Regions from separate parts of the Homo sapiens genome. Here region 2 is linked to region 1. Evidence: fine-mapped expression QTL. Tissue or cell type: lymphoblastoid cells. Region 1 holds a variant in brackets; the other region holds the start of a gene. All regions are shown on one strand. Distances are between the middles of the regions.

The links. PIP is the estimated chance that this variant, and not a neighbour inherited with it, causes the effect.
Region 2: it holds the start of SLC1A3, and the variant in region 1 is fine-mapped to the expression of SLC1A3 in lymphoblastoid cells (GENCORD, PIP 0.95).

The regions. Positions count from the first base shown.
Region 1 is chr5:36,686,368-36,694,566 of GRCh38, reverse strand. It overlaps SLC1A3 (solute carrier family 1 member 3), which reads right to left. Exons shown (of 10, transcript NM_004172.5): 10 at 6,233-8,199. All of the region lies in intron 1 of SLC1A3-AS1 (SLC1A3 antisense RNA 1), which reads left to right. Among named protein-coding and RNA genes, the nearest start is that of SLC1A3-AS1, 35 kb to the left of the region's middle. RefSeq lists a silencer at 4,273-4,472 and an enhancer at 4,928-5,157. The variant C/A (reference allele first, on the strand shown) is at 3,675.
Region 2 is chr5:36,601,760-36,609,912 of GRCh38, reverse strand. It overlaps SLC1A3 (solute carrier family 1 member 3), which reads right to left and starts at 3,307. Exons shown (of 10, transcript NM_004172.5): 1 at 3,178-3,307; 2 at 1,309-1,584. The coding sequence starts at 1,489. RefSeq lists an enhancer at 3,101-3,200.

The DNA.
Region 1 (8,199 bases):
TGACTTATTTCTGGTAGGGCCCTCTTCTTGGCTTGCAGACAGCTGCCTTCTCACTGTGTCCTCACATGGCCTTTGCTTGGTGTGTGCTTGTGGAAAGAGATCTCTCTCTCTCTCCTTGTACTTGGAAAGCCACCAATCCTATTGGATTTGGACCCCATCTTTGTGACCTCATTTAACCCTAATTACCTCCTATAAGCCTCATCTCCAAATATAGTCACATTGGGGGTTAGGGCTTTGACATATGAATGTTGGTGAAGGGTGGGAGAACACAATTCAGTCCATAGCACCCTATATTACACAGATATTAAAATGTACCTCCCTGGAGGGAGGGGCTTTATCAACATTGCCCATTACAGTAGGCATCCCATAAATACCTGCTAAATAAATGAAAAGAGGAATTGTGTTTTCTCTGTACATTCTAGTGTTAATGCGGGCACATTTATGACCCCATTATAATAACACCGGAAGCAAGCACCTTTTATCAAGCACGAATATATGTCAGTGACTTCACCTTTCTTTCTGATCTAATCCTCAACAATCCTGGAAATTAGGAATGATTTTCATCATGATAGGAATCAGAGGAGGCAAGGAGAGGTTAAGAAACTTGCCCAAGGTCACACAGCTCATAGGCAAAGCCAGGATTAGCATCCTGCTCTGTCACCTCTGAGGTCTGTTTCTTTTTAGAGTCTAGACCAGTGGTTCTCAAACTTGGGTGTGCATCAGAATCCCCTGGTCAGCTTCTTAAGACAGATGGCTGGGCAGGGCAAGGTGGCATGCACCTGTAGTCCCAGCTACTTGGGAGGCTTTAGCAGGACGATCACTTGAGCCCCAGGACTTCCAGGCTGCAGTGCGCTATGATTGTGCCCGCGAATAACTACTGCACTTCAGCCAGGGCAGCACAGCAAGATCCATCTCTAAAAAACTCCCCCAAACCAAAAAACAGATTGCTGGGGTCTACCCTCTGAGTTTATGATTCAGTAGGTCTAGGGTGGTGTCTGAGAATTTGTATTTCTAAGTTCCCAGGGAATGCTGATACTGGTTGTGGGACCACACTTTGAGAATCAGTGCTGTGGCCACAGAGCATGAGTTCCTTTTTCCTTCAGCCATCGGAACTGTTTCCTGGCTCTCCAGCCTTCCTTGAGCCCCTCAGGGAGGAGTTTGCTGTAAGCGCTCCTCTTTGCACGTTGTCTGGTCCGGGCTGCTCTGGGTCATCGGGGCCTAGAGAAAGGTCTTGGCCGCAGGGTGGCAGCAGCGGCCCAGGTACAGAAAGTTTGTCCCCGCGCTCAGGACAGCTAATAAGCGCACCATCAACTGGGTTCCCACCGGGCCAGGGCCGGCTGGCTCTCCGTCCCCGCTTGGCAGGGCAGGGAGGAGGCCAGTGGGAGGGGGTCTGGCAGAAGGGGAGGTCGCTGGCACACGAAGGGGCGGTTTTGTTCTCTGGTAGACTCTGGGAGAGGAAGCTGGGTGGTCTCCTCAGAACATCGGATTGTGCCCTTCACAAAACGGCCACGCAGCGCGGGGCCGCTGGGAGAGCCCGCGGGACAAAAGGCCTCTGCGGAGGCGAGCAGGGGTTGCTGGGCCGCCCCGGGCGCAGAGGCCCGGGCCCCTCCGTGAAGAAGCCTGGCAGTGTCTCATGATGCCGGTTTCCAGGGGTGACGACCTCCGCAAAGCGTCCCCCCCGGGCAATGTAGGTCTGTGGCCTCCTCGGGGAGTTCCTTCCAGCTCACAGCAGGTCCAGATGGCACCGGGAGCCACTCTCCCTTCCTCCAGCGTCACCCCGTGCCTCTTCCTCCCTACTGAGCCAGTGTTGTTCTGAACATCTTAAGAATCTCCCTGAGTGCCAGGAACTGTGCTGAGAATCTTATATCTAGTTATTATCTATTTAATTCTCATTACACCATAATAAAGAAGGTATTATGATACCCATTTACGATAGGGAAGTTGAAGTTTAACCTATCATATGCTAAGGGCAGTTGACCATTTAACTAAGCGTTTTAACTCTAGCATCCCCTCCAATACACAGACACTTGATATGAAAGTTGATTTGGAGACGGTAGGTTTCATGCAATCCCCACATCTACAGATGAGGATGCTGAGGTGCAGGGAATGGACCAGCCAGGGTCTCTGAACTGCTTAAGAATTCAGGTATAACAAGTGTGGATTCAACCCATCCCCGTGTAGAAGTTTGAGTTCAACCACCACTCTGAAGCGGAAGGCCTTTAAGTTTTAGGAAGCGTAAAGCTATTTTTAGTCTAGCCATGTGAGTTTTCTAACATGCCTGCTGACTTTCTCATGTTTGTTTTCCACTTCTTTAGCTAACAGCTCCTCATGGGCTTAAATGAAAGAAGGCCTCACTGAGGCACTGGAGTGCCAAGGGCAGGGGAATTTGGTTATAGCATTCAGAGGTTTGTGTTGCCGACAAAAATCTTTGCGTGCTGAGTTCTCCCCAGGGCAGGCCAGTCATCAGTTCATTGTGCAGGGCTGAGCTGACTTCCAAATGGTCTTTATTTTCCCCTGTGACAGCTATGTCTGGAAGCTCCTGGCTGGCTGCTTCCAGGACTTATGATCCTCTGAAGCTAAGAGTTGGAAAAGAAATAAAAAAGTTGTCATCTGACACCATCTTCTAGGACACTCACTACCATCTTTACATGATTTTGCATATGTCATTATTGGAAAGAGTTTATGATTTGATTTTGTTCCCCTTGTGCGGTGTCAGTTGGGTCCTGTTTTTTCATATCCTTCAGACTTGGCTTAAAAAGGGGTTTTTTTTGGGAATGATTCCCATTCATGGAGGCTGGAGTTCCCTGAAGAGACTGAAAAATGCCTCATTCTCAACTTTACAGAGACTGGAAAATAATCAACTTTGAATAGCACAATATGAAAAAAAATGGGTGCTTTTCTAATAGGTGCTCCCCAAATGAAAAAAATGTGTCCGTCTTTGGAGAACAATATGTGAATGCCAAAATTTTCAGCCCTGTAATGGATTACAGAAAATATTTTATGTTGGGGCAGTGGGGAGGGTAGAAGTAAGGAGTGAGAGAAGGAAAGAAGAAAATAGGAGAGGGAAGAAAACAAAAGCAGATGTCAGTCTTAAATATCTCAACTATGGATAACTGAGGTATTGCTTAATTTATTCAAGACAGTTTTGTGAAATCCTAAAGGTGATTCATCAAGCTTTTTAACTATGGCCACAAGATTTACAAGCACATAATAAGTGATAATGTCACCAGAACAATTAATAGTAGGAGATGTTAGATCTAAATTGCTTTTTAAAGCATGTTTTTGCTTTCAGAGAAAAATTCAAAATGGGGGTGATTATTTTATAATGAAGATCCCCCCACTCCAAGCAACCTCTTTCACCTATAATATCAGCTTCATTGAAGCAAATACAAATTGTTCTGAGTTCCACATTTCAAGTGTCTAGAGGGTTGCCAGATTAACACATAAAATTACAGGATGCCCCATGCAGTATTTTGCATACTTACACCACCACATTGTTATTTAATACTCATACTAAAACATTGTTATTTACCCGAAATTCAAATTTAACTGTGTGTCTTGTATTTTATCTGACAACCCTACTTATATGTGGAATTCAGCATGCTGTGAATGTTTCAAAATTGAAGGTTGAGACAGCAGTTTTGTGGGCACGATGAGACATGACCTGCAGGAAA[C/A]CGTTACCATGCCACCTTCTGAGTACCTGTCTGTAGCTGCAAAACATGTAAGTGACAGAAGAGGGAGATGAGAATCCGGAAGAGGAGATGGGAGAGAAGGGAGATGAGGCACAAGGGAGACAAAACAGGATACCCAGAAAGGAAGGGGGTCCTCTGGGGAGGCTATTGAAGAAGCAGGGTGAACAGAGGGAAAAGTGACATGGGGGCACTGAGGAATTTTAAACCTGACTTGATGGCTTTCACAGATTGCTCCCTCTCGGCACTGCAGACTTGGAATTCGATGTTACCCAAGTGAGATCTCTAAGAGGAAGTGCCCCAGCTCCCTTTAGAGCTCCCCGCGGAAGCGGCCCAAGGTGAGCTCCGCATTCCCCCTGGTGGCCACTATGAGGCTCGCTCCCCGGACGCCGCCTCGCGGATCTCGTAGATTTCTCATCTCCCGCTTTCCCTCTAGGACGCTGCCCATCACCTCCCTCGCTCTCCCTTCCTTCTTATTGTCAGCGTATTCATTCGGAGCCCTCCCTCGGCGTGACACGTCCCGACTGCTTTGGCCCCAGGACGCGGCCACACAGAGCCGGCCATTGTTGCTCCAGTTCTGGGACCACCCGGGTGGGAGAAGGGGAAGCGCGGCCGCTGCGGAGGCCGCTCGACTGACGGCAGCCTGGGGTCGGGGCCCGCGGCCACCCGGAAGGAGGGCGTGCGCCCGGCCCTGCCCAGCCCGCAGGCAGCCACAGCCCCGCAGCCCCTGCGGCGGGGATCCAGCCTTCCCGCCACGCTTCCTCCAGGCCCGTTCAGCTAACAGAACTCACACTTCTGTTTTCAACACTGTGTAGATGAGTCAAGGATTTTACTTTTTTTTCTATGCCTTTACTTATAGGTATAGTGAGGTAAAGTGAGATTTTTTCTCTTGAAAAGGAGAATTTTGCTTGGGTGGGAAGGGACAGTGGTGGTACCAGGATGAATGTGGATACAGGAGGACATAGACTCCTAACTTCTGAGGGTAGGATTTAAATATTTTGTTAAATGTAATAACTTATAAGAAACATTTTAAAAAATGTCAGCCAGAGGCTGGGTGCAGCGGCTCACTCCTGTAATCCCAGCACTTTGGGAGGCTGAGGCAGAAGGATGGCTTGAGGCCAGGAGTTTGAGACCAGCCTGAGCAACATAGCGAGATCCTGTCTCTACAAAAAATAAAAATAAAAATTAGCCTGGGCGTGGTGGTGTGAGCCTATGGTCCTAGATACTCGGGAGGCTGAGGATCGCTTGAGCCCAGGAGTTCGAGGCTGCAGTGAGCCATAATCACAGAGTGAGACCCTGTATCTTAAAAAAAAAAAAAAAAGCTGTGAACCTGCATATTTTTCATAGTTCCATTTGTGAGCACATGTGTGACTACCACATGTTGGGATCTAAGGCCTGCTTCTCCACCCTCTTTGTCATACTCTGGCTGAGAGGCACTTCCCTTAACCATAAGGGGCTTTCCACAGACCTCCCACAGGCAGATGACCTGCTTCTTATGTCTGCATTGTGGAGGTGGCCAAAACCCAGCGTGGGCTGCAGAAGGGAAGAAAATGGTCCCGGCAGAAGGGAGCACTTCCTAGCAGTGGATTGATTTTATGCGGCACTTCCCAGAACGTTTCACAGGGGGCAAATATTGATCTGCTCAGGGTGGCCAGGCTTGGTTCCCTCAGTTTGTGAGCAGCCTTTCTTTTCCCAAACTGGTCATGTAAATACCACATATGCCTTCACAAAAGTTAGGGTGTATGGTTCAAACATAGCGATTTGTAAATTTTTTTTTTTTTTTAGTCGTAAGATCTGTTAGAGAAACCGATTGAAATTAAGAATTTTACCCCCAGAAAAAGGCAAATGCACAAAACTTTCCCCACAACTTCAAGGGCGATGAACCTATTGAACTCTCATGTGGATGACCTAGGGGTCCATGGATCCAACTTAAGAGCCTTTCCTCTAGGTGGCTGCCACCTGCTGGTAGAGAGGGTCAGATTATAGGCTCCAGACACTACTTCAATCTGGAGATTTCATGATATTGCCTGCGAATTCTTTACTAAAAAGCATGATGAAAAGTAGTCATCCGTAAGCTGTTCTTAATGAATAGAGCACCAGCACAATGGCTGTTTCTGGAAATCCCTTGAGATCTTAGTTAGCTCTTTTCACAAATGGTGGTAATAATCACAGAGATAAATCTACCTAATTTGGAGGTCAGACAGGAAGTTACTTTTTCGGAAGGGCCCATGGTGGTATCACACTTTTCTAATCCCGACATGGAAATGATTCAATTCATCTGAGAAATTTGAATCTGACATGGACAAGGAAGTATGGCCTGCTACAGCAAAGTGCTCCGCTCACCTCCTCCTGTTTCCAGCTCCAGTTCTTGGAGTTGAGCAGGAGAGCATGTCCTTACTTATTTTCTTGTGGCTGGCTCTGCCAAGATTTTACCTTGCTGCATGGGATCCTTCCAGAGACTGCCCTGAGCTTATTGTAATATTTCCATGAATGGAAAATGTATTTTTCTTTGAGGAGAAGAATAACAACAACGTGCAAAGATGTTAATGTAAAACTATTTTTTTCTTTATTGAAAATACATCTACAAAGTAATGCTTCCCAGTCCACACTGAGTGCATGTGTATGCAGAGCCTGTGATGGCTTGGCGAGAGGATGGGCTCCCCACAGGACCTTTCCATAAGAAATGGTTAGTATATTAAAAAACACATATTGTGTAACAGAATTAAGTTGATATGATTAAGTCTTTGCTCTACTAGTGTCTTAAGAGGACAGCCACGTACTTTAACATTTGTAGTGTATTTCCGAAATAGAGCCTCGACATTAAATGGTTACTGCACCACAGCCTAATGTTAACTTTTATGCACAGAATGCTTGGGGTCTATATAAAAATATCTCTAATTGTATATCAGAGGATCTATGTCTAGATTTTTCAGTTTGTTAGCATAATTAAGTCCATTCTTCACCATTTTCAGCCAGAAACTCAAACACAGCTGCTACTGCCTGACAGCTCCCACTCAGCGTCTTTGACTGGATATTCCTTAGGGGGTAAAAATTAATCTCTAAACCTGGGAGCTGCCTTGCCTGAAACTAATGCCCCTGCTGTTTTTTTCTCATAACCTCATTGACAGTGTCTTCATACTGATTCATCTTCTACCATTTCTCTTATGGACACAAACAAAACAAAAGCAAACCCCACTCCAGCTGAAAGTTTTGAATGATTTGATAAGTGGGATTCCAAAACAAATAAATATTTTGTTTCCCTCATTCTAAGGACTTTTGATTAAAGAAAAACACTTTCAAATAAGAAATACCCACTCAACTCATGGACTTCTATTAGAGAGCTCATTCATTTGACTTCTTTCAAATATATAAGTCGTCTTATGTTTTGGTAAGCAGACTTCACGGGGGGAATGATTTTGGACTCGAGAAAAAGTGTTTCAGGTGAAAAAAAAAGCCAGAAAAATGAACCTCTTCTTTTTTATTCTTCCTTAAAGAAGACCTGTACTCTTGGTGTTTTCAAATCCTTTGTTTGTAATGTTGCCTGTGCTCAACTCTTTCCTAGCTCTTTAGTGTTCCACAGTGTGACCACAAGCACCCTTGCTAGCTGCTAGTCTTCTCATCTGTTTTCGAAGTCTATCATCAGTTGAGGAGTGGCAGGAGACATTCTTCCCAGAGTAGGAAAGAAGGGAATACTTCCCCCATTGGGATGAACTGGGCAAAGAGTTTGATGAATAATCCCACTCCTGGAATGGCCTCCTGCCTGGCGACTTGCATAACCTGCACTTTGCTCACAGGACCTGGTGACCACCACACACAGCCATCCTGTCCTTAGTTAGAAATGTTCACTCCCATTGAAGTGTCTTTTCTGAAGGCCTCGTGCTCCATGGATGGTACAGGGTGTTCTGAGGGGAAACAGAGGGCAGGTGCTTTCATGACATCACAGGATGTCTGGGCTGGAAGAGACCATGAAGACTTCTAGGGAAGTCCCTCATTTTATAGATGAGGACACTGAGGCCTAGAGGTGAGATGGGACTTGCTCAAGGCCACATGGAAACTTTGCCTTCTGTCTGTCCTCACAGCTGTGCTAGATGTATATGTGCACCTAGCTACTAATGAAATAGGTATACCAGTCAGAAGAGAAAGGGATAAAATCTTACTGTCCAACTGATAACCGGTTGTAATTCAAGTTGTTAACATTTTGAAACTAAAACTGAATTGTATTCTGAAAGATTTTTAAATTTCAAAAGTTGATTTTAAAATGTTTTTAGCCTACTATTTGTCTCTTTAACTTATATAAAAAAATCACATTTATAGGATTGTGTGCCACATAAACTTGTAAGATCTGATCAACACTATTTGTGATCTTGGTACCTTATTCGGTAAGACTAACATGAAATGATTTAAAAATTTCAATTGTGGGATGAAAATTGTACACTTTGGCCACCCAAAATCCTCCCTTGTGTTTTGGAGGACTATTTTCCAGTCTTATCAGAAGGGAGGAAAGGGAAGA
Region 2 (8,153 bases), 85 kb after region 1:
AATGACTTTGATTCAGAGTGACAAATGAGGCAAGCAGACTGTATTTTGCATTGACTTCCAGGACAATGATGTGGGACTGAAATATTTCACCCAGGAATATATTCAAGCCTGGAAACCTACTGTGGAAAGCCATTACTTCTCTGGGTCAGTTAGGACATGTTCTCTTTGAATATCTCTAAATTAATTGAACCATCATTAATCACCAGTGATTACTAATGGAAGACAATGATGTTAAAATGGGATGTATCTAAAATCTTGTGACAAACTCTCCTGCTATACTTCATTTGTCTACAATTTAAGAATTCAATTTTCTTGAAAAAAGTTATATTTACACACTACAGAATTTTCTTAATCTTTATTAAATCATTACCTCTTTAAAGTTGATGGAAATCTTGGCAAACTCCAAAGTAGAGATTAAAACGGTACTGAATGCCTCTTTTTTGGTGGCAAATTGGTAGGTTAAGTTGGAATATTTTTACAACCTGGCATTGGCGTATATGTTTGTCAATCTAAGGATTTCTGTATTGGTTTGGTCAAAAATTCCAAATAAGTAGGTTTTTTCAGCTATATTTTAAAGTAGGATCAATGCCACCCATAAGTAATAAACTATAACTTTTAAGATCAATAAACAAAACAAAACAATAATATTTTATTAGTACAGATTGCTGTCAACCCTGCTAAATTAGTAAGAGATGGAAATGATTCAAAAAAAGGTATAGCTGGTTATGGCAGGCTCTGCAAAGCAATGAATGAAAGAGATCTGTGTTAACATTTTCCCCAATCTACCTTTCCCAGTTGCTGGGTGAGAGAGTGCAAACACATAAAATATTCGGTCTCTGTGCCTAAGCGTTGATACTCAGCTTCAAGTCAGCACCAGTTAGAATATAATTACTATTTGGAACCAACATGTCATTTTAGGTGTACTAATTGTATAAATTAGTTTTAAGTGCAACTGACATTGTATATAATTACATTTTGGCCAAATCTAGCATGCTTGCTTTGTCATGCCTAATGATTAAATGATCACTTCCTTATCCTTACATGAAATGGGAAAATATTTTATTTATTTTTCTTCCTCACACAATTGATTTGCATAATGCCTAATGATGCCTAATGATGTGTTTACTATATATTGCTCCAAACAAGCCAAAACAGTCATTTTTATGGAGAAAAATCATCAAGTTCAGAGGAAAGCCTAGGCTACCATTTTGATACCTACAACTAGTTCATCTGATAATATTCCCCGGGCAGCCAGATGCCCCAGAGAAACAAGATACAGGTTTTTTTGTTTTTAATCAAATGACTCACCCACAATGACAGCGGTGACTGTGAGCAGCACAAAAGCATTCCGAAACAGGTAACTTTTAACATCCTCCTTTGTAATGTTCTGCACTTTCTTCTTGGCCAAAAGTGTGCGTTTACGGACTCCCTGCTGGAATCTCTCCATCCTGCCCCCCATCTTGGGCTCTTCTCCATTGCTTTTAGTCATATTTTACTTTTCTAGGAGGGTCTCTTCTTTGCACTTCAGTGTCTGGGAATCACCCACAGAAAGCCAAACCTCCTCTTTGGTATTAGAAAACACAACTAGAATGGGAGAAAAAGAGACATGAGTTATAGCCTCCAGGGGTGAGAAATCAGTGCTGCTCCACACCAGGCAAGCTCTTGGCAAATTGCATAATCTCAGCAGGAATCAAGGACTGGAGAGCCACAATACCAGACCTCAAGGTTGCAGTGTGCATATTTTAGTGGACCACGTGTGAGAAATGTGCATAAATTCGGAATATATTCTATTTTCTTTTTAAAAATCCGTCCTTCCCCTTCCAATGAGGCTATAAAAGGGTTCTTCAGAGCTAGATCTGACTGAGAACCCCTATTCCCACCCTCCCCCGCAGAACCCAGCTGATGCCTTGCACAACGTACACAATCAGTAAATGTCCAATTGAACTGAATGCACAGAAAGTATTCAATCATTACTTGACAAATTATGCTGTATACATGGTTGAAAGCATAACCAGGTCAATAAAAATAATTAAGATACTGATAGGTGGGAGTTGTCTCTGTTACATGCAGTAAAGTAACCAGCTATTTTCTTCATTAAGAAAAAAATATAATAATATCTACTAGTAAATATGGTCATAAAAAGAACACAAGTGCCCACAGTACATGGGAAATACATGTGACTATTTTACAGGGTAATTTTTTCATTTTTTTTCCATGAAATAAGCAAAGTGCTCTGGGCACATCTATAAATCATCTGAAATCACAATTCAGCTTCGTTTATCACAAGTAGAAGTATGAAGTAGTGTTTTTCTTTGTGACACACATGCTGGAATCTTCCGAGGAAACTATCGCTGACTTTTTAGCGTTTTAAAATTTAGGATTTCTAGAACAGATGAGATGAAACCAATTTTCATTCCAAACATTACAGCTTGTGGTTTCTGGTTTCTTTAAAGCACTCACGCTATTTAACTACATTTCAGTAAATCTCTTTCCTGGTGGAAATCAGCTGTTCTGAAAAATCAAGGGATTCCTCCTGGTGCTTTACAGGAGCTCTAATCCATAGCCCTTCCCATAATCAATCCGAGTGAAAACCAGCCGTACCATGGATGTGTGTCGCTGCCAACGCAAGCAGCCAGCGTGTGCGCCTGTGGGGGAGGTAACTGGAAACCAAAGGACTCCTCGCAAATGACTTCTCGCAATCCCAGTGCAGGAAAAAAAAAGACTTGTCTTAACAGTTTGCCTTTTAAATAAAATTGCAAGTTGGGGTCAGTGATACTAAGACTTCTAATTTGTTTAAGACTTCACACTGGATTAAATGCTTAGGGAGAAGTGAAGACCGGGAAATAGGAGAGACCAGATTTTTTTTTTTTTTAAACTAATAGCTCTGATTCCTCTTACCAGTCACTTTTAAGCAGATCCGCTCAACCTTGATCCTTTTCTAGATCTCGCGCCACAATCTGCCCCCAATCCACCCCGAATGACTCAACTCCGAATTAACAGCGGACCCGGCATAAACAGACACCACACTCTCACGACGTGAGATGACTAACAAGGACTTTATCTACCAAAATGGCTAGCCTTGATTCAGGCTACTCCTCTGCTTGGAAGGCAAAATACATCGGCAGAGAAGTGAAAGGAGAAATTAAACCCAGCAGGAACACAGAATGTGACACTTACCTTTTCTGATTTTGTAAGGGGTGGAAGATATCAAGCAGTAACGAGGTGAATTCCCCAGCAGGTACAACGGAGCAACAATCCGCAGCGCGCGTAAGCAGGCAGGCTAGCCCTGACAGTGTGCATGTGCTCTGAAACTGCAAGTTACTATCAGGGCAACTTAAGAAAAGGGGAGGAGTCTGTGCCCGGGAAAGGAGGAGTGGGGAATGGAAACCGCACAGGGAGGAGGGGGAAACCCCGAGGTTTCTGGAATATTGATTAATCTTGGCACACCAGAAGCAGGCTTGCTGGCTTTGTTTTGCTCCTTAGACCACTTTCACGCTTTGTCAGTTCACTGTCATTAGAAATGCAAAACCGGGACTAGGAAGAATTGAAAAATAAAGCGCACACAATCGGAAAGCTGAAAGTCTTGATTAGAACGTTTCAAAGACTTTTCTAAGGCTAAATTTAATTACCTCACATTATTGCATGTTTCCTCCCTTTCAGGGAAGACGAGGGTGTGCTCTTTAGCCTGGTTGTACAACTGTTACGAGAAAGTTCCTTTTTCGAATCGGGGAATTAACTGACGTTTCTTGGGAAGACACTGAATGCAGACAAGTATGTAGAAAAAAAATAATGCTTACTACGATTCTCTAAATTTGTCTAAAGTTAGGGACATGCCTCTATTTCAGCAGTTGAAACTTCAAAACTTCATTTTAACAAACCTAATTTAGCTCACACTGCCTGTGTTGCAAAGACGGAAAAGGTAGCAAATGTAAAGAGACTGGAATTTTTGCCAAACTAGAAAATGAAAAGCATTTTAAGACCAAGAGTGCAAAGTACACTTGAGATTTGGTGATTCAAAAGATAGGTTGCTGTTCAGATGTCTCCATTTTAAAGGATGCTAAATGTTCTCCCTACCACACACAACTTTTTTAGAGCTAAAAAATTCTCATTGCCTTGAGAAGGTAACTTGAGCTTCTAGTCCACTTTTCTTAAAAGAAAAATAAATTGTGAAAATAGATATTAGAAAATAAAAAAAAATTTTTTTGAGGTGACTTATTCCCAAAACTTAAATCTTCTTTAGAAGGAAGAAAATGGTTCATTAGAAACAAAAATTTATACCAGAATCACAGCCTGAGGTTTGGATTCTTGTTCACTGAATTTAATATTCCCCATGCAAAATATGCTCAATTCTTGGTCTATTATTCAACAAGAAAGTATGTCTTTTTTCCCCTCAATACAAATCTCTGGAGATCATAAAGAAATATCTCCTTTCACCCTCAACTGTATGTCCTTTTAAACAGCTACTGGTTGGAAAGCAATGGTGAATCATGTCAATGCTTTAAAATTACAAATCAGCAGCAATTATAACAGCTTTCTAACATGCTATCATTTTAAGAACTTACTGAAAGTACATGCTTTTGACATTCCCAGCCCTCAGTGACCCTTCCCTTCCTCTGATCTCCTAGGTCACTGAGCATCTATACTACATTGTTTAGCACTTAATTATACCATGTTTTGTACTGCATCCTTCTTTTTAAGCTCATGTTAAGTTTTGGTTTCTCAACTAAATTATAAGTTCTTTGAGGGCAAGAACTTGTCTTATACCTAATACAGAGTCAATATTAAGTAACTCTTTTTAAGTGGGTGGAATAATATTAGGATGTGAAACAAAACGCTTTTCAATCTTTTGTGTTAAAACACAATTACTAGTTTTTACATTGGTGCCTCTGGTTTAGGTGCATGGAGCCATTTCTCAATGCCATGACTACTTTTAAAAGCATTTATTTACTATACCAGGTCCTATCTGAGCCATGAGTTTAGGATTAATTTGCACACCCCCCCCCCCCACCGCTTTTTTTTTTTGGTGGAAATGACTTTGACTTGTATTGCAAGGGAACTCGAAAGAGAAATCTGATTTTAAATGGGGTTTCAAGCCCAGTGGCATTTCCATTTTTTGTTTTTATTTTTGTTAATAGGCAAGAAAAAGGGCTGGAAAACCACACTTTGGTTAGCATAGAGATGGGAAGACCCTGGTGCCCTTTCTTTTTCACTTTTTTTTTCCTCTCTAATCCCTAAAGCTTGGTTAAAAACCATTTCATTATTTCAGTTTGTGTAGACATTATGGGAGTCTGGTATTCTGTTGAGAAGGGAAGTAATTCACCACTGAAAGTTTTGTTGGCTGTAATAAAACCTAATGAGAAAATGAGATGCAAAGAGTCTCAGTTCAGAGTTCATCCAATTTTAGTCTGGAGGGAAACATTGGGAATTACTTCTTTAAGCACCACTTTCTCTTTCTGGAAAGCTATAGCAAAAGTCATGCCTGGGGGCCTCCTGGGTTTCCTCAACGCGTATTTCTACCTTTTCCCCTCTACTTTATAGTTAAGTCCCTTGAGCTTTAAAACATCTTTTTTTTTCCTTCTAGAAACACTAAATAAATGAAAGATCAAGAAATTATGAACAAGTCTCTGTATGCTGTATTTCATTTAAAGCTACTCAGGGTGGGAGACACAGAAGCTGGGGGATCATATTAATGTTAGTATTATCAAATGAAAAAAACACAAACACCAGCAGCAAATGCTGTTCCTGCTGAAAAAATCTGTCAAGATCTTTCTGTGAACATTGTGTGATGAAGTATGTTATCAGTAAATTCTTTCTTTGGGAAAAAATGTCAGTATAACAAGAAATAACCAAATCCAACCTGTCCTTAAAGGGAGCATTTATTGGTTTGAAGAACAAGAGATTACGGTAATAAGCACGTGCTGATCTTAGCATGGTACAGGCCAGTCAAACTTCACCATTCAAAATTAGGAAATTTTGGTTAATTGGATTTTTTTTTGAGCAACAAAATGGATTAGAAAACCTTTTAATCTTTTTTCAATATTTTCCAAGTTGATTTTTAATTTAATGATGGTTTTAAAATCATTCCTTGTTTAAATAGCTTGCATTTTAGGATCATCATGAATGTCAATTCTCCTCCTAGAATTTGGAAATTGTAGAATGCTAAGACAATGAACAGGACCTGACTTAACCCCAGAGTGTAACAGTGGATGTGTTAGAGGCAGTAGGTGTAGAAGAACTTGTGGTAGTTGTCTTCCATTTTGTTTTGATTTTTTTTTCTTCTTAAATATGAATGTAAAAAGCAGAACAACAAAAAAACCTGTGGTGAAGTCTGGTTAGTTGAATTTTTAAATAACTAGGTTTTATTTTAAAGTTATAGTCATATGAAACCTAAAAACATCCAACTACAGAGAGGTGAACTAAAATTAACTTTATCACATTCATTTATTCTTTCAACAAACATTGAGCAACCACTGTGTTCCAAATACCAGTTTCTTTCCTCAAGGAGTCCATAAACGCATCGTAATTATTAAGCAGTGGGCCAGGACAGGGCCCAACAGAAGGTTATGAGATCGCTGTGTGCTGAGGCCTATTTACCAGTTAGTATGTCAAAAAGACTGGTAGCAACTTAAGAGAAGGGGCTGTGCCTGGATCCACATTGTGTACACTGTTTCTAGCAGGTGCCTGCCCATAGCAGCCATCGTGTGGCATGGCAGGGAGCCAGTAGTGGTTCCTGCTGGAGAACAGGCCAGTAGGGGCCGAATTTACAACTTGAACTCCACTCCTAGTCAATGGGGAGCCAGCCACAGGATTTAAGCAGGGAAGTAATTTTCGTTTTAGGTAAAATGCAAAGCCTTGAAGTGACTAAGACTTGGGTTAGGAAGTCAAGGGGCAGGAGGAGCATTTACAAACTAGGTGAGTTCACATTCACACTGAAAAATACTGACCATTTGAGAATATCAAGGCCCTTGAAGGGGTCGGCTGACACTGAGCCAAGGCTGCCTCCTGTAGGTGGAGTGTGCACTCTCCAGCCCACTTGTCCTGCTCACTTCACTCAAGTTAGTTATCAGCATGTGGCTCTAGCAAGTTCTTCTGTTTTGACCTCTGATGGGGTTTCAGAAGAGGACTGAGCAAGGGCAGAAGCCTAGGGAACACCAACACAAAGGTGAAGACCAGCAAGAGGAACCCCCCCAAATAGATTCCCACGTGGCAAGAAATTACACCAACTGTTATTTTTCTCACAAGTGATCCAACAGGTGGACATAATGATGCCTTAAAAAACAACATGTTTTCTCCATTCTAAAGCTAAAGAGGGTCTGCTTTTTAATGAAGGCTTCACACATGTTATTGTTATCAATTATTATTTATATTGAAAAGTGACATTTTCCCCAGTTGCTCAACATGAGTCAAGACTTTGTAGAACCAAGAATATCCGTTTAGCTGGAAAAGATTATGTAGGTTGATTGGAATTGAAGCCTTCAGCAGACATGTTTACAGGGCTTTATAGTTTTTTAAGTACTTCTACACACATTATCTAATTTAATCTTCGTGATAATACTTTGAGGTCTATTCTACTCTATTATTACTGGTCCTGTAGACCCAGATGTTGGAGATCAGTAGGGATTGAGTAATATGCTGGGGATCATAGTCAGCGCTAAGACAAGAGTTCTTCATGTTGATTTCTCATCTTTTCCCAAAAGAAGCCCCCAGGAGTTTTTTTAAAGACAGATAGAAAAGAAAGGAAAGAACATTAAAAGGAAGGCCTACAATCTGTTATTTCTTCTGGGGAGTCAACTCTAATCTCCTCCCACTCCCCAAATCCAACGGGCTTGGTTGCCTTTCCTATGTGCTCCCAAGGCCCCCTGGGTTTAAATCTCCAGAGTCATTACCACTTTGTGCTGCAATTCTCCCTGTCTAGACTGCAGGGTCTTTGAGGGCAGGGCCTGTATGGATAACTACTGCATACTTAGGAACCAGAACGGAAGGTGCTCAGAAAAGAGTTGCTGCACCAATAAACAGATGCAACACAGTCACAAACACAAGAGGGTTCATCAGTCCATTTCCAATTCTAAGACTTGGAGAAAGGAAGTCAGTAAACATCAAACTTAAAAGGAAAAAAAAAAGCCAATGAGTTCCTTCTTCAATCATTACAATGT